2 separate regions of the Homo sapiens genome follow, and region 2 is linked to region 1. The links come from fine-mapping of genetic effects on gene expression. A gene starts in region 1. The other region holds a variant in brackets. All regions are shown on one strand. Distances are between the middles of the regions.

Evidence for each region. PIP is the estimated chance that this variant, and not a neighbour inherited with it, causes the effect. A credible set is the group of variants that fine-mapping cannot tell apart.
Region 2: its variant is the best candidate, but not a certain one, in a credible set for the expression of MED27 in whole blood (TOPMed, PIP 0.56).

What each region holds. Positions count from the first base shown.
Region 1 is chr9:132,076,703-132,085,208 of GRCh38, forward strand. It overlaps MED27 (mediator complex subunit 27), which reads right to left and starts at 3,165. Exons shown (of 8, transcript NM_004269.4): 1 at 2,940-3,165; 2 at 740-884. The coding sequence starts at 3,142. RefSeq lists enhancers at 1-138, 3,062-3,341.
Region 2 is chr9:132,007,071-132,015,070 of GRCh38, forward strand. It overlaps MED27 (mediator complex subunit 27), which reads right to left. Exons shown (of 8, transcript NM_004269.4): 3 at 7,267-7,397. Among named protein-coding and RNA genes, the nearest start is that of MED27, 69 kb to the right of the region's middle. RefSeq lists enhancers at 1-486, 282-391. The variant A/G (reference allele first, on the strand shown) is at 4,380.

The DNA.
Region 1 (8,506 bases):
CCAATCAACAAAAAAAGCCCATACACACATGTACGCCACACCACATAGCACCCAAACAAAAGGAACTTGTTAGTAAACAAACGAACCGTTTCCAGATTCATGAGCCTAATTGTTTCTGTTATTTTTCAGCTACAGTTTAGTTTGCAACTTACAGCTGTCCTAGGGTCTCTGCCACAGGCCTGCCTGCTGAAAGAAACCATGAATATCAAACTCTACAGAGCATGTTAAGAACAATCTCCCTTAGGTGGCATCTAAGTAATTAGAGAGTCATCTAACAAACGGTATTCTAGTGATGCTCATCCATCTGTGACAGAGGAAAAGACAATACAAGAACATAATGTGCGCAGCTAAACATTTAGACACCTCCTGGGGGCCACAGATTCCTCTGCGAACCTGACAAAAGCTAGGAAGCCTTCCCTAGATATACATGCACATACCACAACATACTGCATATAATTTTAAGGGGTTCATAAGAGTTGCTCCCTATACCCAGTCTCCAGGTTAAATACACCTGAGTTAGAATTTTTAACATGTAATCACCTGAACATCATGAATCCCCAAAGACTTCAAAGGACTACAAAATAGGTTACAGAAAAATTCTACAACTTCCAACTCTATAACCCCATGCTGAATCAAGAACATAAAAAGCAATAAAAACATACTCTTGCTTTCTGCATGTATGGAATATAAGAAAACTTGGTTTTCCATATATTAGCTCCGTTTATTACATCTCCCTTACCTTGTTTGACCACTTATATGCTTGAAGGAGTTGACTATAGAGAGGAGTTTTGTCCTGCACAGGATCCAGGCTTAACAGCCCACTGTTATGAAGAGGATGGTTCTCAGATGGCTTGCCTACCAGATTGCTCAGACGTTCCAGCTCACTGAAAAGCAAAGAGACAAGGCAAATAAACCTAAGCCCATTTACACTCCAGGGTAAAGCCAGCCCCCAGGATCAAAGACTGCTCTTCAAACCATCCATCAGAAGTCCCTTAAGAAGAAATACTTTTTGAAAGGTTAAAAAATACTTGGGACACTTAAAAAAAAAAACCCTAAATGAGAGTTTATCTGACTTTAAAACAGAGCTTCTGGTGCCATTCCAAAGGAGGAAAAAAAAGGTAAGGGCAGTAGAATCAATAAGACCCCCATAATCAGAAATTAACAACTCAAATTCATCCCTGCAGTGGGGAGGAGACTTTCTGGAATTTTGAAATGTGGTATAACACTGCCTCTCACTAAGAGTTTTCAGACCCACGTGCAGATCATTACACTTGGCAGAACAGCAAGTACCTGATTAAATGATGATTATTTATCATTCACATAGGGATAGATTTGTACATGATGCTTCACAGATGGTAAAACTTAACAAAACAAAGAAGAGATAAAATAAACAAATGGAATGGGAAGACACCACTGAGGTGGCTGTGTCAAACAAACACACTTCAGTCTAGCAGGAAAACCCTAGAGAAGCTTGGGAAAGCGAGCCAACAAGAGCACATTCCAGGAGTACGTTCTGAGGGGCCAGTCCCAAACTGCCAACAAAAGACTCTCTAGGAACAGCTTCTTATGCCACATTCATTTTGGAATCATCAGCCACCTTCTTCTTGGCACTACTGTACAAAGATTTAAGAAGGCAAAAGGATAATGTCAGCACTCTTAAAGTTTCTATTTAAAATGGTGAAGGGTTATAATATCCTGAACATTACAAAGGGAAGTAACTCGGAGAGAAAATGGAAAGAAAACAGAAGATAGGGAAGAATAGCCAGTGCATCCCCTGAAGCAGAGAAAGTATTAACTGGTGCTCGGCGCGGTGCCAGAGAACAGCAAGCGGATGTGGGCGTTGAGGAGGGCTGTGTGATTTACGGCAACTACTTAGGGGGAAAACAAAAAGGCACCCATCATTTGGCCACCTCCTCCTCCTCCTCCTCCATCCTACCTCCTCTTTCCATCTGGTTACTAAGGAGACCAAGTTGAAAAAACAAAAATCCAACCAGTCCAGAAATCAAAGGATGACTAGCTCACCAAATGCTTTCCCCTACTCAGGTCAGTTCTGAGAAGTAAAAGGCAAAAATCCTGAAATTCTAACCTTCCTGGGAAGGACTGACTCTCTTATAAAACAGAAGGCAAGTTCAGGACCTAAGCAATCAAGAAGTGCCTACTATGTGCCAGGCCCTTTACAAACATCCTCTCATTTAATTCTTACAACACTTAAAAAGTGTAAGTGAAGAAGGTACTTTGTAAGGAAGAGGAGGAAAAGTGGAATCCTTAACCCTAAAAGACTACAAATTAAGAAGCAGGGGCGTTAAGCATAAGTAATTAAACTGGTTAAGAGATTAGAGAGTAGGTCTCTACTGCGGAAGGAACTCCCACAGGAGTGGGAGTGAGGAAACTGATCAGGTGGTTTGGGAGCGGTTAGGGGAAAAGGTGAAGACAGCTCAAGGCCTGGCCGGTCCGTCGTGGTTGCGGGTGGGTGGTGGTGGAACTGATGAAGTCCAAGTTCAGGGCCGGGGAATTGGGGCTAATCAGATCGGGTGCACTTGGGTTTGGAGCCGACTGACCAGGTCCTGTCTGTACTATTACTACATTCGGATCAGACGTGATGGGGCACAGAGGGCCTACAGGTGAGAAACCTGCCAAGCTCAGAGAAGTGGAAGTTCATGGGAAAAGCATGCCTCCTTGTTAGGAATGGAACCGCCACAGAAGAGGTCGAGGATGGCGGAAGACAAACAGGACCAGGAGGCCAGGAGAAGCAAGACGAGAAAGCGGGGATGGTGTTAAGATGTCCCTGAGGGACAGGCAGAGGCTTGGAGAACAAGAAGAGAAAGAACAGGGATCAAGGGAAACGGAGAACAGCCCCTGCCTGGGAAGACTCGAGCGACGTAGGGGCAGGGTCGGAGCGGGGCCGGTCCCCGACCCCGGCCCCTTCAGCCGGTACCTACTTGAGGTCCCGGTTGACCGAATGTAAGTTGTCCTGGAAGTGCGCAATAAAGGCCTTCTCCCGGCCCTCCAGCGTCTCCTTGTTCCGCATCCCATCCTTCAGGCAGTCGAACACCCTGCTCACGCTGGAGCGCAGCGCCTGGATGGCACTAATGGCCTGGGAAAAGGCCTCCAGGTTCACACTGACATTTATCACGTCCGCCATGTTGCCGCCGCCACAGCAGCTCTCCAAAGCCGGCTTCGCAAGCAAAAAAGCCGCGCTCGCTGATGACGTATCTCCGAAGACCTCTGGGAAATGCAGTTCGCGCGGGGCTACCCAGAAAGCACTTTCGAAAAAGGGTTTCCCCTTGAGCTAAACTAATGCATGGGCAGGAAAGTGATTTTTCTCAACTTGGGGAAGTCAGGTTGCACTCCCGGTTTGCTTAATGGTGACAAAGAAATACAGAAAGTTCCCGCATTTCCCCAAACTTGCACTCTGGGGAATCATAGGGAAAAGAATTGCTCAGAGCAATAGTGTAAAAAGGAAAGGAACATAGCCCATTCAATAAAATGAGTCCATATTCATAAATAAAGCGGGGAGAAGGAAAGTTTCTTCTTTCCAATAGAATGCCAGCTCATAAATGCAGAAAGAGTGATGGAATTAGAAAATTGCCATTTGACAGCCATTAGAATAATTGATTCAGATAGAAATCGATGGATGCTAAAACTAGTGGGTGAAAGTGTCAGAAAAATAACAGGCTTTTTAGGTAATCTCAAAGTATCGTCCCCCAAGATGCTTATTAATTAAGAAGAGGAAAATAATGATCCAGAGATTCCACTTCTGGGCATATACCCAAAAGAAGCGAAAGCAGGGACTCAATACCTGTACACATGTTCATAACAGCATTATTCACCAAATAGCCAAAAGGCAGGGGAAACCCAAGTGTCCATAAACTGATGAATAAACAAAGTGTGATACTGGCATACAATGAAAAATTCTTCAGGCTTAAGCAAGAAAATTCTGACATATGCTACCTGGAGGAAACTTGAAGACATTATGCTAAGTGAAATAAGCCAGTCACAAAAAAACAAAATTCTGTGTGACTCCACTTATATGAGGTGTTTAGGGTAGTCAAAATGTTAGAGACAGAAAGTAGAATGGTGGCTGGTTTACAGTGAACACACACCTCTGAAAATAACATACATAGCATAGAGGTTGTGGAAGAAAGAGAAGGTTTGGGATTTAAATAAAACCAACAAAATGTTGGCCAAATCTGGCTTTATGGAAAAATTCAATGTCTCTTTGTCCTGTTGGCTATAGACAGGTTTCTGAAAATTTATTATCTTTTTACTAAAGGGAACCTGCCCAAGTCCTCATGTTCTTTCCTTAGAGGAGCTGGGGTTGCATAGCTTGGAGCAGAGAAGAGGAGAGCAGGAGGCAGATCATGATTGTGACCTTCAACTCACCTTCATGTCAACCCAAGACAAGAGTCCTCCTTGGTTAACTAGTGGCAATAACAATAACCAGTTGTAGGAAGGCTGTAGAGAGGAAGATTTCAGCATAATATTGCAAAGGGCCATATTTAAGTCTGTACTTAAAGAGTACAGACTTGGAAAAGTTTTACAGCTGGATGGTGGTGATGGCCATACAACAATGTGATTGTACTTAATGCCACAGAACTGGACACTTAGAAACAGTGAAAATGGTTGATTTTATATTATGTATATTTTACCAAAAAATTTTAAACAATTCATTAATGTAAACATAAGGGGGGATGGATAGTGACTTAATAGTGACTTCACAGTGGAGAAACATGGCAGACACCAGCTTAACCAAAAGGCCAAGGTCAACATCACCAGTGACGGGACATGTTGTGCACCTCCTGATACAATGCACTGGAAAGAGCACAACATGACCTCCATGATATTCTTGCCAGCAGTGCATAACCTGAATCTAATCAGGACATCAATAGAACTCAAACTGAAAAACGTGACAAAATAACTGACTGACCTATACTTTTTCAAGAAATATCTGTGTCAGGCCATACACTGTGGCTCACACCTGTAATCCCAGCACTTTGGGAGGCCAAGGTGGGTGAATCATTTGAAGTCAGGAGTTCGAGACCAGCCTGGCCAACGTGGTGAAACCCCATCTCTACTAAAAAGACAAAAAATTAACTGGGCGTGGTGGTGGGCACCTGTAATCCCAGCTACTTGGGAGGCTGAGGCAGGAAAATTGCTTGAACCTGGGAGGTGGAGGTTGCAGTGAGCCAAGAGTGCATCATTGCACTCCAGCCTGGGCAACAAGAGCAAGACTCAGTCTCAAAAAAAAAAAAAAAAATTACATATATATATATATATATGTCTGTGTCACGAAAGACATGAAGGTTGAGAAATTCTTCCAGATTAAAGGAAACCAAAGAGCTGTGACAACTGAGGGCAATGTGTGAGCTAGGATCTTCTTTTGCTGATACAACTGGGACAATTGGTGAAATCCGAGTAAGATCTGTAGATGAGTTAACAGTATTTTATCAGTGATTGTATTGGTCTGTTCTTGAACTGCTATAAAGAAATACCTGAGACTAGGTAATTTGCAAAGAAAAGAGGTTTAACTGGCTTATGTTTCTGCAGGCTGTACAGGTACCATGACTGGAGAGGCCCCAGGAGGCTTTCAATTATGGGGGAAGGTGACAGGAAGCAGGCGCATCTTACATGGCTGAAGCGTGAAAGAGGAGGAGGTGCCACACACTTTTAAACAACCAGATCTCGTGAGAACTCACTCACTATCACGAGAACAGCAAGGGGGGAATCCACCTCCATGATCCATCCGCCTCCATGATCCAATCACTTCCCATCAGGCCCCTCCTCCAACACTGGGGATTACAATTTGACATGAGATGTGGGTGGGACATAGAGCCAAACCATATCATTGATAATTTCATGATTTTGTTCATTGTACTGTGGTTATGGAAGAGGATGTCTTTGTTTTGGGGGAAATACACCCTGAAGAGAAAAAAGATCATCATTATGTCTACATGAAAAAGAAAATAAAATGAATATGTTTATTTAGAGAGAGAAGGCGAAAGCAGATGTGGTAAAATGTCAACAGACACGGAATCTGGGTGAAGGGTATACAGGAATACTTTGTATTATTCTTGCAAGTATGAAATTATGTCAAAATAAGTTTGTTTTTGTTTTTTTTTTTTGAGACGGAGTCTCACTCTTTCGCCCAGGCCTGACTGCAGTGGAGCTATCTCAGCTCACTACAAGCTCTGCCTGCCGGGTTCACGCTATTCTCCTGCCTCAGCCTCCCGAGTAGCTGGGACTACAGGCGCCCGCCACCGCGCCCGGCTAATTTTTTGTATTTTTAGTAGAGACCGGGTTTCACCGTGTTAGCCAGGATGGTCTCGATCTCCTGACCTTGTGATCCGCCCACCTCGGCCTCCCAAAGTGCTGGGATTACAGGCGTGAGCCACCGCGCCCGGCCAATAAGTTGTTTTAAATGGCCATCCAGGCCAGGCGTGGTGGCTCATGCCTGTAATCCCAGCACTTTGGGAGGCCAAGGCGGGAGGATCACCTGAAGTCGGGAGTTTGAGACCAGCCTGACCAACGTGGAGAAACCCTGTCTTTACTAAAAATACAAAATTAGCCGAGCGTGGTGGCACATGCCTGTAATCCCAGCTACTAGGAAAGCTGAGGCAGGAGAATCGCTTGAACCCTGGAGGCGGAGGTTGCGGTGAGCCGAGATCACGTCATTCCACTCCAACCTGGGCAACAAGAGTGAAACTCCGTCTCCAAAAAAAATAAATAAGTAAGTAAATAAAAAGGCCATCCTTAAGAGGCAGGGAAAGTCTAAACCACCGTCTAGGTGGTAAGAAAAATCTTCAGTTCAGCCAGACTGTGCTGACAAGGATTTTGAAATTGGGTAGTTCACCTCAGTTCCACCTCCTTAATAATTCCCCACTTCCCGGCCAAGTGCGGTGGCTCACGCTTGTAATCCCAGCACTTTGGGAGGCCGAGGAGAGCAGATCACTCGAGGTCAGGAGTTCAAGACCAGCCTGGCCAACATGGTGAAACCCCGTCTCTACTAAAACATACAAAATTTAGCCGGATGTGCACAAAACTTAGTCTGGCGTGGTGGCACGTGCCTGTAATCCCAGCTACTCGGAAGGCTGAGGCAGGAGAATCGCTTGAACCCAGAAGGTGGAGGTTGCAGTGAGCCGAGATCGTGCCACTACACTCCAGTCTGGGCGACAGAGCCAGACTCTGTCTCAAAAAAATTCCCCACTTCCTCCCAGCCTGACCGCACCACCTCGGTTCAAATCCTCTAGTTCTGGAAACACAAAGATGAATTCTGCTAAGAAACTGGACCCCGACAAACCAACTATTAAACACTATTTAAATTAATTGTCTCTTGCAAGAAAGCTGTTTTGTCTTGAGATTATATAGTTGCTTCCATTTCCTGACATCTAGCTCACCTTTACAATGTGGTCATTTATAGCTTTTCTTAAGGGAAGGGATGAAGATAACAGGAAACTTCTAGCTGTGGAGCTTTAACAAGTTATTGAACCTCCCTGAATCTGTTTCCTTGTCTGTAAAACAGACTGGTAATAATACCTATCTTCATAAAATAGCTGTGAGGTTTAATAACACCTTGCAGGTGAAGCTTTTGAAATAATGCTTGGTAGATAATAAACGCTCAGAAGAGCATAGCTGTTAGGAGAAGGTGTCTGTGAATTATGCTTCTCATCCCACTGAGAATTCTTTACATAGACTCAAGCAAGGATTAGCAATGGGATTATTAGTTCAAATTATCTCTAATGACATGATCTTGTTGCTAATAGCTGGTCAATGAATTTTATCCCATAATTCACTATATTTGGTGGTTTTTTTGTTTTTGTTTTTGTTTTTGTTTTTGTTTTTGAGATGAGTCTCGCTCTGCTGCCCAGGCTGGAGTACAGTGGTGCAATCTCAGCTCACTGCAACGTCCGCCTCCCAGGTTCAAGCAATTCTCCTGCTCAGCCTCCCAAGTAGCTGGGATTACAGGGGCACGCCACCATGCCCTGCTAGTTTTTGTATTTTTCGTAGAGATGGGATTTCACCATGTTGGCCAGGCTTGTCTCCAACTCCCAGCCTCAGGTGATCCGCCCGCCTCTGCCTCCCAAAGTGCTGGGATTACAGTCGTGAGCCACCGCCCCTGGCCTTGGTGGCCTTTTTGTCACCTTTGGAATGTAGGGGTAAGGCTTTTTCCTAAGGTTTTGGTAGAAAATATTTTTTAACTTTACAAAAGTAAAGGAAGTAAAAGTAAAGAGAAATATCTTTGTTCGTTGGCTTGTTTTGGTTTTGGCTTTGGTTTGTTCATTCTTTCTAGGAAAAGAGTAGAGGAGGCAAATTCTATTATCTTAGGTACTTACCTTTTGGGGGTTCCTGAAGGATTAGAAAATGTGACTCATGTGGTATATTTTGTCCCCAGGAAAAAAAAAAGTACCAATCTATTTCTACCCTCACCCACATATGCCCATAAACATGAGATTTTATGTACAATTTCAGGGGGTTCATAGCACCACCCTCCAAAGCCCAAACATGAACC
Region 2 (8,000 bases), 70 kb before region 1:
GTGGCCGTACCAAAGGCAATCTGTTGTTCAAACACTGGAAGCCCTAGGTGTGAGTGCTGTGTCATTATCCCTGTTACCTCCTGAATGGGTGGCACTTCCTTCCAGCAACACTTGTCACTGCATGCTGTTTTTGTGGTCTTATTGTTACTCAAACCTGAGAGGCAAGTCATCCAAGAATCGAAACGCAAAGTGAGGACTCTCTCTCTCTTGAAAGTATTACAAGATACTGAAACAAATGCAAACGCTGAGGAAATGGCACCAGTAAGCTCCAAAGAACATCGAAAAAATACTATTCAGCAATAAAATGGAACCAACCGCTGATACATGCAACATAAAGGAATCTCAAAAACATGTTGAGTAGAAGAAATCAGAAGGAAAATATTATGTTCTGCATGACTCCACTTATACAGAAGTTCCAGAAGAGGCAAAGCTAAGGTATAAGTATAGATATCAGAACAGTAGTTGCCTGGGGTGGGAGAGAAATTGGAGACAAGTATAATCCACCCTTTGGAGGAGTTTTGCTATAAAGAGGAGAGACACGAGGTGGGAGCTGGGAGGCAGAATGCAGTCATGGATGTGTGTTCTTACAGGAGACAGTTTTCAGGGTAAGCATGTTTTGTCTATGAATGAGAATGATCAGGAGAAAAGGGAAATAATTATGGTGTAGGACGGAAAAAGGAGACCAATGGAGACAAGGCCAGGAGTAGGTGAGAGGGATCCATCAGCAAGTAGATGGGCTGTTCTTAGCTTGGAGCACGAATAGCTCACCCCCAGGGACCACAGAGAACAAAGCCCGGGAAACAAGTATGCCCTTAATCAAGCAGACAGAATCTTTTCATGGAAGATAATATAATGCAAGAGAAACTGCCTGTCCCCACAACTTCCAGGGCATGGAGGTAATAGTTTTCAATGTAAGCTTTCTGAAAAACTATTTGTTTTCCCTCAAACCTAAATAAGATCTCGGTTTGCTGGATATGAACACAGTCACCTCTGCTGTTACTGAAAGCTGGCATTTCATCAGGCCAAGTTGTTGAAACTCAGAGGAGTGCTAGGCCATTCAGCCTGGCCATACTGATTGAAAGCAATATTCCATGTTAACACAAAAGCACACAACACTGCATTAGAAAATCGAGGCTGCTATCTAAGATAGAACACAGGTAAACACAGCTACATCTCTCAATAAATACATAGATATCTCAATATATAACTCATAGATCAATTAAATAAGATATAGCCACTCTCCAGGCTGATCCCAATCCTATGAGGCTCAGAAGCCCAACAATGTTTGCACAGCAACAGTGGACACAGCCTCTCAGCCTCTTTACGGAAACGATAGCACCCCTTGTGCAAAAACCTTAATTTGAGCATTTGGAAATCCTAGAAGTGAGGTCACTTCATCAGTGCCCTCTGAACGCTAACAAGTGATAAAATATCTTTCATCATGAACAAGATCTTTATCTTCTATCAAGCTTCTTTGGAGGGGGAGAAAGATATGAATCATTAATCCCATGAATCACTCATCCTATGGGAGCTCAGGGAGGAATCTGAGTCTTCAGAGACTACCGTTAGAGCCCTGCATTTTAAAAACAAACACATCGTACACAGCTCCTGCATTCCTGCCACGCCTGTGCTCTCTGCACAGTTGGGCAGAACTAGTAGTTTTGCTGTAGCAGCCTTAGTGCCATCCAACTGCTAACACAAGCCACGCAGAAACCTACCCATCACTGCACTAATACGCACAGGGTTGCAGAGAAAGGTGTGTGAGGAACCCAGACGCTAGCCCTTCACTGCTTTCCTCCACCGTTTAAAAACAAAACCTTTCCTTAGAATCCTGTAAGCCTATGCAAGAAAGCATCTAGCATTCTCAATGAAATAAGGCCCCCATCCTTCACAGCCAGCAGCAGATAAATCTGGTGAAGGGCGGCTGGGCTTCCCCAAGTGGACCTCCCTCCCCACTCTGCCCGTGGCCTTCTCAGGCACTGGAAGAAGGTCATGTCAGTCAACTTGGTCCATGTTGCTATGATGCTCTGCTCCTTGTTTGCTCCTATCTCTACTCAGAACTTCCCAAAAACCAAGATTATATCTTATTCATCTCCGAATCCCCAGCACAGTGCATAGAACCAAGCATTTGTAGGCCCTGAGTAAATATTTACTGAATAAATAAGTGAATGGGGTTTACAGGCTCAGCCATTGTTCCTGTGTGCGATGTGATGGTTTTAAAATAAATATGTCCACAAATTCTTTGACACGTCTTTCTTCAAAAGGGAGAGCCTCATCCCCTCCCCTTGCATGCCAGTCAAACTTCGTGACTCATTGCAAATGAACAGAATGGGGTAGAACTGACGCTGTGTGTCTTCTGAGATTAGGTCATAAAAAGGATGGCTGCTGCCTGGCTCTCATTCTCCTAGATTGCTGGCTCTGGAGGAGCCAGAAGCCATGTCATGAGGATATTCAAGCAGCCTGCGGAGAGGCCTAGGTGGAGAGGAACCGAGATCTCCTGCCAACGGCCAGCACCAACTTGCCTGCCATGTGAGTGAGCCACCTTGCAAGTGGAGCTCCTAATCCCAGCCAAACCTCAGGTGACTGCAGCCTTACAAGAGGCTCTGAGCCAGAACCACCCAAACGAGCCACTCCTGGATTCCTAATCCACAGAAACTGTGAGAGATAATGTTCATGGCTGTTAAAGCACTAAGTTTTAGAGCAATCTGTTATGAAGCAATAGATAATTAACATAGCAACCTTGGAGGATTTCGGTGTTTTATAAGGGGGTTGAAAGGATTTTCTTAATGACAAAAAGTTAGTTTATAGTTATGTTGTGCTTATAATAAAAATTTTGTTGATGGGGTTGTTTTTTCTTGTAAATTTGTTTGAGTTCTTTGTAGATTCTGGATATTAGCCCTTTGTCAGATGAGTAGATTGCAAAAATTTTCTCCCATTCTGTAGGTTGCCTGTTCACTCTGATGGTAGTTTCTTTTGCTGTGCAGAAGCTCTTTAGTTTAATTAGATCCCATTTGTCAATTTTGGCTTTGTTGCCATTGCTTCTGGTGTTTTAGACATGAAGTCCTTGCCCATGCCTATGTCCTGAATGGTATTGCCTAGGTTTTCTTCTAGGGTTTTTATGGTTTTAGGTCTAACATTTAAGTGGGTGAAGGATATGAACAGACACTTCTCAAAAGAAGACATTTACGCAGCCAACAGACACATGAAAAAATGCTCATCATCACTGGCCATCAGAGAAATGCAAATCAAAACCACAATGACATACCATCTCACACCAGTTAGAATGGCAATCATTAAAAAGTCAGGAAACAACAGGTGCTGGAGAGGATGTGGAGAAATAGGAACACTTTTACACTGTTGGTGGGACTGTAAACTAGTTCAACCATTGTGGAAGACAGCGTGGTGATTCCTCAGGGATCTAGAACTAGAAATACCATTTGACCCAGCCATCCCATTGCTGGGTATATACCCAAAGGATTATAAGTCATGCTGCTATAAAGACACATGCAAACATATGTTTATTGTGGCACTATTCACAATAGCAAAGACTTGGAACCAACCTAAATGTCCATCAATGATAGACTGGATTAAGAAAATGTGGCACATATACACCACGGAATACTATGCAGCCATAAAAAATGATGAGTTCATGTCCTTTGTAGGGACATGGATGAAGCTGGAAACCATCATTCTCAGCAAACTATCAGAAGGACAAAAAACCAAACACCACATGTTGTCACTCGTAAGTGGGAATTGAACAATGAGAACACTTGGACACAGGAGGGGGAACATCACACACCGGGTCCTGTTGTGGGGTGGGCGAAGGGGGGAGGGATAGCATTAGGAGATATACCTAATGTAAATGACGAGTTAATGGGTGCAGCACACCAACATGGCACATGTATACATATGTAACAAACCTGCAGGTTGTGCACATGTACCCTAGAACTTAAAGTATAATAAAAAAATTTTGTAATAAGGAGTCTTCTATAGAATACAACCAAAAGATGGATATTGATATGCAAATTTGAATAGTCCATAGATCAAATTATGCTCCCTTAAATGTCACAACTATATTCAATAAAAGGTTGAGATATGAAATAGAACAATACTATAATATACTCCTTTTTGGAGATTATTTTGCTTTTAAAACCTATTTATTGCTTTAAAAAAACTATTGCTTTTAAAAACTATATATGACATATGCACAGAAAAAGTCTAGAACAATATCCATCCTAATCTTAATAACTTTTTCAGATAACAAAAACATTATTTTTTAATGTTTTTGTTACCTTTTCAAAATCTACATTATGTATATACTATTATTGTTCTATTTCCTAGCTTAAAAAAGAAAAACAAAACTTTTTAGACAGGCAGCC[A/G]TGTTGCATTTCTAGCCAACATCAAACATAATGAGTGGCACATAGTAGGTGCTCAGTGGAAGTGCAATGGGGCGGGACGCAGTGGCTCACATCTATAATCCCAGCACTTTCAAAGGTCAAGGTGAGAGGATCATTTGAGCTCAGGAGTTTGAGGCTGCAGTAAGCTGTGATCATACCACTGCACTCCAGCCTGGGTGACAGAGGAAAAACATGCCTCTAAAAAGAAACAAAAAGGGGAGTTGGGGAGGCAATTGATGTCTTTTAGATATAGCTTCTGCCTACTGGACAGTAGTTCTATAAAGGGATTCCAGGATAATGTAAGCCCAAAAAGCTCAATGATGTGAAAAGGCAGCAGTCAATTTTCACAGGAAATAGGCTACTAAGTATAGGAAATCATTTCTATGTTGTATTCTTAGGACACAGTAACCACTTTTCTCTTTGAAACTATTTTGAGTGATTTATTATAAATTTATAATGACAGTTGTGAACACCTCTCGCTCTTTTTTTTTTTTTTTGGCATGAGAACAGTCTGTTGATTGCCCTAATGCCTAAAATAGTTTCTAAGTGTCCTCACAATAGCATGTCACCTGTAAACAGGTTTCAAGCCAATGCAAATTAACAAATGGTGAACAGATGGACTAAGAACTGACTTTTGTCAAGAGAGAGTTAGCAACAAATACTTTTTGGCTCCAGTCTTATGGGACCATTAGAAAGTCTTTTACTTCTCGCCAAACATCTTGCCTCAGTAGACAATCCATGCAGGGAAAATGACAAGTTACAAGGCCCATTAGACTTTAGAGAGCTGAAAGTTGAGATTTGCAGAATCACCAAATCGACACATGAGAAACAACAGATAGAATAATGGCCCTTAAGAAGCATTCTGCCAAATAGTCAAAACTCTGGCTTGCATCACTAAAAGCAGCTGTCCCTGTAGTGACCTTCTTTTTGAAAAATATGGCCCCTGTGCATGCAAGCAACAGACACAAGCTACTTGTCGAGGCTGGCTGGTTACATTCCTCCTATCCTGGAAGCAAGTGTGAACTGTGAAGAAAGCCTGAAAATCATGGAAGTGGTGGCATAAGAACGTCCACCAGCTAGAGAAAGGATCCCCAGAGCAGTCACCCCTTGGGATCCCCCCGGCTCTTCACTGGTCTTTCTCCTCCTCATTCGTCAAGTCTCTGCCTCATATTGGCTCCTCAGAGAAGCCCTCTTTGATCACCCTATTTAACAGTATCCCCCACTCCCATACCTTACCCCACTCTGTAGTCCCTTCCTAGCACTAAGCATAACTACAAATTATGGCGTTAATTTATTAATTTGTTGAGGGGTGCTTGTTTGGTCTCCTCCCACCCCCGAAATGAAAAGCTTAACAAAGATGGGACAATGTCTGTCCTGCCCATGTTTATATCCTTGGGGCCTAGAAACATGCCTGACACAGAGTAGGTACAATAAATATTTGCTAACCAAACAGCAAATGAGACCTTGAGCAAAGGTAAACAATCAACTCATATATGCCAACACTCCCTTGGACTAGAAAAGAATGCTGTTTGTAACTGAGGATGTAATCAGAAGAAGGTACAAGGGGTGAGCAGGACAGGCGAAGGAACGCTTCTCGGGCATCTGGCCCTCCCAGAGGAGTGTGCACACTGACAGGAAATGGACTGATGTGCCCACATTTCTCATTCCACATCACTGAGTGAGCCTTTGCACTCACCTACTAGGGCTTCTAATACAAAAGAACCCAACAGGTTGAACGAACCAAGTGGATGAATCAAATGTGGCATATTCAAAGGAAGACTACACTGCAACAGAAAAAGGACAACAGGATGAATCTAACACATATGATGTTGAGTGAAAAGAAGCTCATACAAAAAAATGACACTGCATGATTCCGTTTAAATGAAGTTCAAAGACAGGCAATATTAACTGTTTAAAGAAGTCAGAATGGTGTTAAACTTGGGAAGGAGGGCAGCACAGGTATAGACAGAGAGCAATGAGGAGGAACCCTTATGGGATTCTGGAAGTGGTGGCTACACGGATGTACATGAGTGTGAAAAAATCATTAAACTGTATGCTCTGTGAAGCTTACTGTATCTGTTATCCTTCCTAATGGGAAAAAGAAGAGCACATATATTACTATTTTTAAATGTGAACGAATGAACCTAGCATTTATTCTAATCTCAGCTCTAGCAGGTTCTCTAGGTGGTCTGCAGCTTAACCAAATGTGCTCCTCAGCTGTCTCATTTATAAAATAAGGACAACTGTACTCATATTCTACCACCTTTGGGAATGTGATAAGGAAACAAATAATAAGCCGTGAGGTCTCTTAAAATCCTAGGTGGAAAAGTCACATACAAAATATGTAAAATAAACTGCATTACAGCTGTTTCACAAAGATCTATGCAAATTATGTTACCATCATGCTTGGTTTCTAATCCTAATAGATGCCTTTTTAAAAGAAAGAAATAATTCTGGGCCGGGTGTGGTAGCTCATACCTGTAATCCCAGCACTTTGGGAGGCCGAGGCAGGTGGATCACCTGAGGTCAGGAGTTCGAAACCAGCCTAGCCAACACAGTGAAACCCCATCTCTACTAAAAATACAAAAATTAGCTGGGCATGGTGGTGTGCGCTTGTAATCCCAGCTACTTGGGAAGCTGAGACACGAGAATTGCTTGAACTCGAGGGGGTGGGGGAGGGCAGAGGTTGCAGTGAGCCGAGATCATGCCACTGCATTCCAGCCAGGGTGAAAAAGTAAGACTCCGTCTCAAAAAAAGGAAGGGAGGGAGGGAATTTTGAAGAAAACAGTAACTTTCCACTACCCAAAAACAAGTATAAAGTAAAAAAGTTCACCCAGTACTAAAGTAATTTTTCAAATCCATCACTCACTGAGGTGGTAGGACAAGAGTTGTGGGCTGAGCCTTTGGTCTACGTTTGGCAGATACTCCCATCTGATTAGCGGAACGCTTCAATGACTGCTGATTTAAAAGGCCAGATGCTAGTCCTGCATGGTACTGCAACTGCAGAGAAAAACAAAACAAAAGGGGAAGAAAAATAGCATTTGGTAAAAGTAGGACAAATGGTATTAAACTAGCAATGCTTGATAATCTTATCCCCTTAGAACATTTTAAGTAACTTCAAATACAACTGCTCACATTCTGCTTCAAGGAATTTACCCATAAAAAGATAATCAGACAAACAGGAAACAAAACAAGAACAAGACTGTTCATCACAGCATTACCTCATGATGAAAAACTGGAAGCAGTCGGAATGTCCAACAACTGACTGTGAAATTGATTAAAATAGAGAAAGAACTTCACAACACCATTTTGTTGAATTAAAAGAAAAAAGGTTCCATTGTAAACAGAGAGGCACTTTAAAAAATGTTCTCTAAAATGCTAACTGTATTTTTCAGTAGTAGAATTCGAGTGATTTTTACTTTCTTCTTTATTTTTGACTACTATTCATATGCTTTATGTAAATGGTTTTAAAGCCTACGTAATTTTTTAATAAGAAAATCCAGAGGTTTTCCTTAGAGACAAAGTTAGTTCTGGGAAGTCTTGCTACCACCATATCTTGCTTATAATAAAAACCATAGAATTTGTAGTCTACCGCAGTACACC